2 separate regions of the Homo sapiens genome follow, and region 2 is linked to region 1. The links come from fine-mapping of genetic effects on gene expression. A gene starts in region 1. The other region holds a variant in brackets. All regions are shown on one strand. Distances are from middle to middle.

The links. PIP is the estimated chance that this variant, and not a neighbour inherited with it, causes the effect.
Region 2: its variant is the best candidate, but not a certain one, in a credible set for the expression of TFPI in nasal epithelium (TOPMed, PIP 0.70).

What each region holds. Positions count from the first base shown.
Region 1 is chr2:187,552,856-187,555,786 of GRCh38, forward strand. It overlaps TFPI (tissue factor pathway inhibitor), which reads right to left and starts at 1,580. Exons shown (of 8, transcript NM_006287.6): 1 at 1,345-1,580.
Region 2 is chr2:187,504,342-187,507,272 of GRCh38, forward strand. The region is part of intron 1 of TFPI (tissue factor pathway inhibitor); the gene reads right to left. The region is part of intron 3 of CALCRL-AS1 (CALCRL and TFPI antisense RNA 1); the gene reads left to right. Among named protein-coding and RNA genes, the nearest start is that of TFPI, 49 kb to the right of the region's middle. The variant T/C (reference allele first, on the strand shown) is at 1,164.

The DNA of each region.
Region 1 (2,931 bases):
CAGTAAAAATAAATATTTTAAAGTTTTACTCTTATTTTAAAATTACTTGATTAGTTATCTGTATTTACATTAATATTTTTCAATCTTTGTTGATCCCTAATTATATTTCATATAATTTTATTAAGCTGTAGGCCACAAATTAACATTTCAAACTCAGCCAAATTTCAGGGACTATCCCTCTTTAGTTTAAGGATTAGATGAGATATGGACACTGTATATTGAAATAATCATGCACTAGAATGATAGATTTAAAATAATCTTTAAAATGTGTTAGGGAGATTTTGCCTCCCTAACACATTTTATTCAAAAGTTTTGCAGTATCTCTCAAAATTGTCACAACTTTCCCCCTTTCATGTAAATATTATGCTTTTACACATGAAATATGACTCTCTGGGCAGTATGTTTCCTGCTTGAGTTTTGCCCTTTGTGTTTATATTATCTCATGTTATACAAAGTCATTTTGTGACTAATTTCCAGAGCACTGAGTCACAGTGTGGCTGTTGCTTATCTTTTCTTTTTTCCCACATGGTAGTACTCTTGGCCCTTATTTTTGGTAATTATTTTATACTAATGAGTGCTTTTTCATAATTAAATAATTGTTTCTCTCATTATATTTCTGTGGTTGTTTACTGCTGTATTATATGCTTTCATTTTTCACTAGAAGCAAACATTTTATAACAGGAACATAACAGTACATCATGTAGGCATGTTATCTATTGTTTTAATTTACAAAATTGCACAACATAGACTTGATCGTAAGTATTCTCGTTTAAGTATCTCAGAATATGACCTTTGGTCTTTGGAGAATTGTAAAATATTTCCTTAGAGAGATTAGTTAATGCTGGCATAAAATATTCCATTTAGATTACGATTATTTTAATGGTTATACCTCATTTTAAATATCATCAACTAATAGTATTGAAAGATTATTTGAATAGAAGAATAACAGTCTCTATTTTATATGTTATGAAATAAAATGGAAAGGTAAACCGAACTTTCAAGAACTTCCAATTAACCAAGCACAATTAGTAAAGAATTCTACTACAATCTTCAAATTATAAAAAAGCTACATACACCAATTAGTTACAAAAATGTTTATGGTTTAAAATCATAAAAATTGCACATAAATTTGCTTAAGAACTAAATGCAAAATGCTGAGAACTCAAGTTTGGATTGCAGTTTGAGTTTACTCTGTTTACAGGGAAGGGCTGATTTTCATTTTACGCAAATAAACAGTGATCCTCCCCTATCAGTTCTTTGCCTCTCAGCACCCTGCTTTTCCCCCGAGAAAAAGAAATTAAAGTTATTTCTTATGGGCTAGACAGTATATTGCCAGGTACTCACAAGTAAAATCTCTGATGAAAGTTCTTGGAATGTTTTTTTCAAAACGGAGTTGAGGTTATTTTGTTTTTCCTTCCAGGTATTGAAGACAGGATTTATCTTCTCTACTTCTTCTTTTAGAAGCAGATCAAGAAACTGGCGATTGAAGAGTAACTGAAAGAAACGCAATCTGATCTTACTAGCAGTGAAAGAGCGAGGTAAGAATTTGACTATTATCCAGCCTAAAGTCGCTGCTGTCTGTTAGAGCAAAGAGGGAGCCTCAGAGTCGGCTTCAGAGATCACTGGCAGTTGGGAATAGCCCAACTTCCTGTTTAGGTCACTGCAACTCTGACTCTATTTAGTCTAAACCTCTTTTTTCTTTCTTTCTTTCTTTTTTTTAGTGGAGGAAACAGATGAAGGAAACAGCTTACACCAAGATTTCAGATACGATCATTTTGAATAGCTATTTCCTTTACTTTCCAGGATTGTTTTTGTAATCAGTTGAAAAAGAATGCTTTTTTCCCCCTAGAGTTAGGGTTTAAAAAATTACATATTTATTATTACACTGTTAATAAGCTTTTTTGCAGTTTGTTTCTTCTTCAAGTTATTTCATTTGTTTCACCCACTGTCAATGTATTTATTTTTTTTAAAAGTCTGAGGGCTACCGTTGGAGGTCTCTCTTAGTGAGACAATGTAATGCATTATCTATTGCAGGTGTCAGGCTTTGAGCCCTACCTTAGCTACTTGCTAACTTGGCTACTCAGCCCAGTTATTTGAATTCACTATGCCTCAGTTCCTTTGTTCCTAAAATGTCGATAATAAAAGTTTCTGGGCTTGATGTAAGTACTAAATGGCTTAATACATAAAAAGTACTTAAGGCAGGACCCAGCATGTAGCAAACCTCCAATAATTGTTGGCTATCATTATCGCTGTTTTCTGTATTTCTATTATTATTATTCTACAAAATATGTAAATATTTACAGATGTCAACCAGAGTCTCTGCTGTATGTCCCTATCATTGAGGTTCATCCGTACTGTCTCTGTATTGGAATTATGGTCATATCAGACTAAGATCACTAGAGATCTAATAAATGGGCAGAATCTACTTTGCCAGGAAGGCTGAAGACATTTGGTCAGAAAATGTAGGAGTTTCTTGCTTCTGCATCTCAGATTCTTTGTGCCTTCAATTTTTCTTGCTTTCCTTAGACCTCTCTGTAAAAGGTAACCTTTCATCTTGAGTGTTTTTAATACATATTGAATAATTATTTGGTGGTGACTGGAACATAAATTATCGATTTAATTCTCACAACTAGCTTATAAAGAAGGTCCTCTTTGTATGCCCATTTCACATGTCTAGGAAGATCGAGTTCAGTATGTGGAGCTGTGATTCTAATGTCATGCAGTCTGCCTTTAGAGCAAAAATGCATAAATCCTCCTCCATGCTGCCTTCTCACTCATGTTCTGGATTTCATATCATGTTAATAACTTATCTCCTATTACCTCATGCCCTGCCCCTCAACCACAATCAAAGCTATCATCTCACTCAGATTGTAGAGGAAAGTCCTTTTTTCTTGGTACCACCATGGACCTTGATTAAACTTTTGAGGAATC
Region 2 (2,931 bases), 49 kb before region 1:
CAGACAGCCAAAACAGAGGACAAAAGAAGTGTCTGACATTCGAGTTAGTCCTCTTTCCCAGTTCATTATTCCGCAGTTTAGGGAGTTATCTGATTCAAAAAGTTTCACAGAAAAGTGACTCTAAGTGATAAGCCATCACTCTTACACTCTAAAGGAATCAGATTTCAATAGGAGAGTGAGACTTTTCCTGTTTCAACGTTGTTTAAAGATCTATCGCCAAAAAGGAAAAAAAAAAAAAAGAAAAGAAAGAAGTAAGTCACCTTTATTTTTTTAAAGACGACTTCTTCTTTGGATTTAAAGGTGGAAGGAAAAGTGTAATGATCATGCAACACAGAAAAATAAAAGAAGAGAACACTTGCTTCCTTCCTGTTCTCAGCCACCAGTGCCCTTCCAGTCAGGAAGGAAAGCGAGATCTTATCAGCAAACATTCACAAATGCAGGGACAGATACTCCATCAAAAACAATCTAGAGAATTATCTGGTTTTGTCTGTAGCAGATCACAGCTGCAATATACACCATTGTGGGTAGCCATATAATAATTAAGTAATAAATGTTATTATGCTTTAAGTTTCATTAAAATCACTAGTGAGATACATAACCTTTTTTTCTCACAACACTTTGCAAGTGTTAACATACATTTGATTTTTAGTCAGTAGAGATCTCATATATCTTGTAAATCATACCATAAACCATTTGAATTCACAAATATATATATATATTTATATAGATACATGATTTTGAAGAATCTTGAAACTAAACTTCTAATCCTTATCGCATTTTTGAACACGTTTTTCAGAGATTCATTTATTTCCATTTGATTCTTTGAAATATACTATCCTGCTATACTTTGAGTATAAAATACAGAGTGTACTCTGCATCACACAGTTCAGGAAGCAGGCTGAGGTTGGGGGCCTGCTGAAGCCCTTGAGAGAGAGGGCTCTAAATTCAGCAAGTTCCTGTCTTAAAAAATGGCAGCCTAGGGTATTGCCTAAACTTAGTACTTTAGACTTTCGTTGGGTGCTAGGATTAGAAACCAGCTCTGACAAATTTGGATCATCAGTTTATTTATTCTAGAATATGTGGAACAATCTGAGATGACAAGGGCAGGCTTGCATTAGTTCTCAGAAACAGCTAGAGCTGGTGAGCTGAGCACCACCAGGTAT[T/C]TCTCATTGTGGCTACACTCCTTAGACAGCTTTATTTTCTCTCAGTGTGACCCAATCTTCTCTGCATAGCATGATGCATGAACAATGAACTGTCCTGGGTTTTAAACCTTAAGAGTTTTTCAATCAAAATAGTGTGACTACTTCTCTTTATGGTCCAGGCTTAAATAGCTTGAGACTAGCTCTGATAGTTTTAGCATGAAACAAGGGACACCTTTTGGACCAATCCATTTGAGTTGGGAATTGTAGGAGACCATCATAGATTTGGTGGACCCAAAACCAGTCTGGGGTCAGGAATAAGAAAATGTAATAGCATGGCAAATATTAATGGAACCATATGGTTTGGGTGGTGGAAACGGACAAGTGTAACTCCCAGAAGGAGGAAATTGTTGCTTTCAGAAGGGAAGGGTGTTAGACAGATAAATGACTATATGACTATATGACTATATACCACAGCAAGCCATAGCTAAATAGTAGCGTATGTAATTTTTTTTTTAAAAAAAAGAAAAGCAAAAGGCAAATAAAGTACATGAATTGCAGGAGGAATCAAATATCTAAATTTTTACTCAAAAATGCTGTCTGGTTCTGGGTGATAACAGATTTAATGTAGGGATGAATCCATGCACCAACTTCTATATACCATGCAAAATCTTTTTCCTTTTGGAAAAATCCAGCTTTCTTAAAATTAGAAAACAGAGATTTATAAAACACCATTTGCAGATCTCCTCCCCCCATAGTTCAGCAGAGAATTTGCTGTAAACATCTGCTTGATAAGCCCATAATCCTGGCTTTCTAATAGAAACATCTTCTTTTAAAAAAATTGACCCCATTATTTAAAATAGTTTTAGATTTAAAAAAAAATAGAGAAGAATGTACAGAGACTTCTCATACACCTCACACCCAGTTTCCCTATTAACATGTTACGTTAGTATGGTGCACTTATCGTTAATATACCAAAATTGATACATTGTTACTAACTAAAGTCCATATGTTAATCAAATATCCTTATCTTTTCCCCAGCACGTTTCTGTTCTAGCAACCCATCCAGAATACCAAATTGCTCTAGTTGTCATCTCTCCTTAAGTTCCCTTGGCTGTGACAGTTTCTCAGATTTTTCTTATTTTTGATGATCTTGACAGTTTTGAATAATACTGGTCAGGTATTTTGCAGGGTATCCCCTTAATAGAATTTATCTGATGTTTTTACTCATAATTAGACCAGGGTTATGGGGTTTGGGAAAGAAGATAACAGAGTTAAAGTGCCATTTTTGTCACATTATGACAAGGATACATACTACCAACATAATTTATGACTGCTGATATTGATCTTAAACACCTGACTGGGGTAATGATTGTTAGATTTCTCCACTATGAAGTTACTTTCTACCCCTACCTTTCCATACTGTTTATTTATTTATTTTTTTATACTTTAAGTTCTGGGATATATGTGCAGAACATGCAGGTTTGTTACATAGGTATGCACATGGCATGTTGGTTTGCTGCACCCATCAACCCATCATCTACATTAGGTATTTCTCCTAATGCTATCCCTCCCCTAGCCTCCCACCCCCTGACAGACCCCGGTATGTGATGTTCCCTTCCCTGTGTCCATGTGTTATCATTGCTCAACTTCCACTTATGAGTGAGAACATGTGGTGTTTGGTTTTCTGTTCCTGTGTTAGTTTGCTGAGAATGATGGTTTCCAGCTTCATCCATGTCTCTGCAAAGGACATGAACACATCCTTTTTTATGTCTGCATAGTATTCCATGGT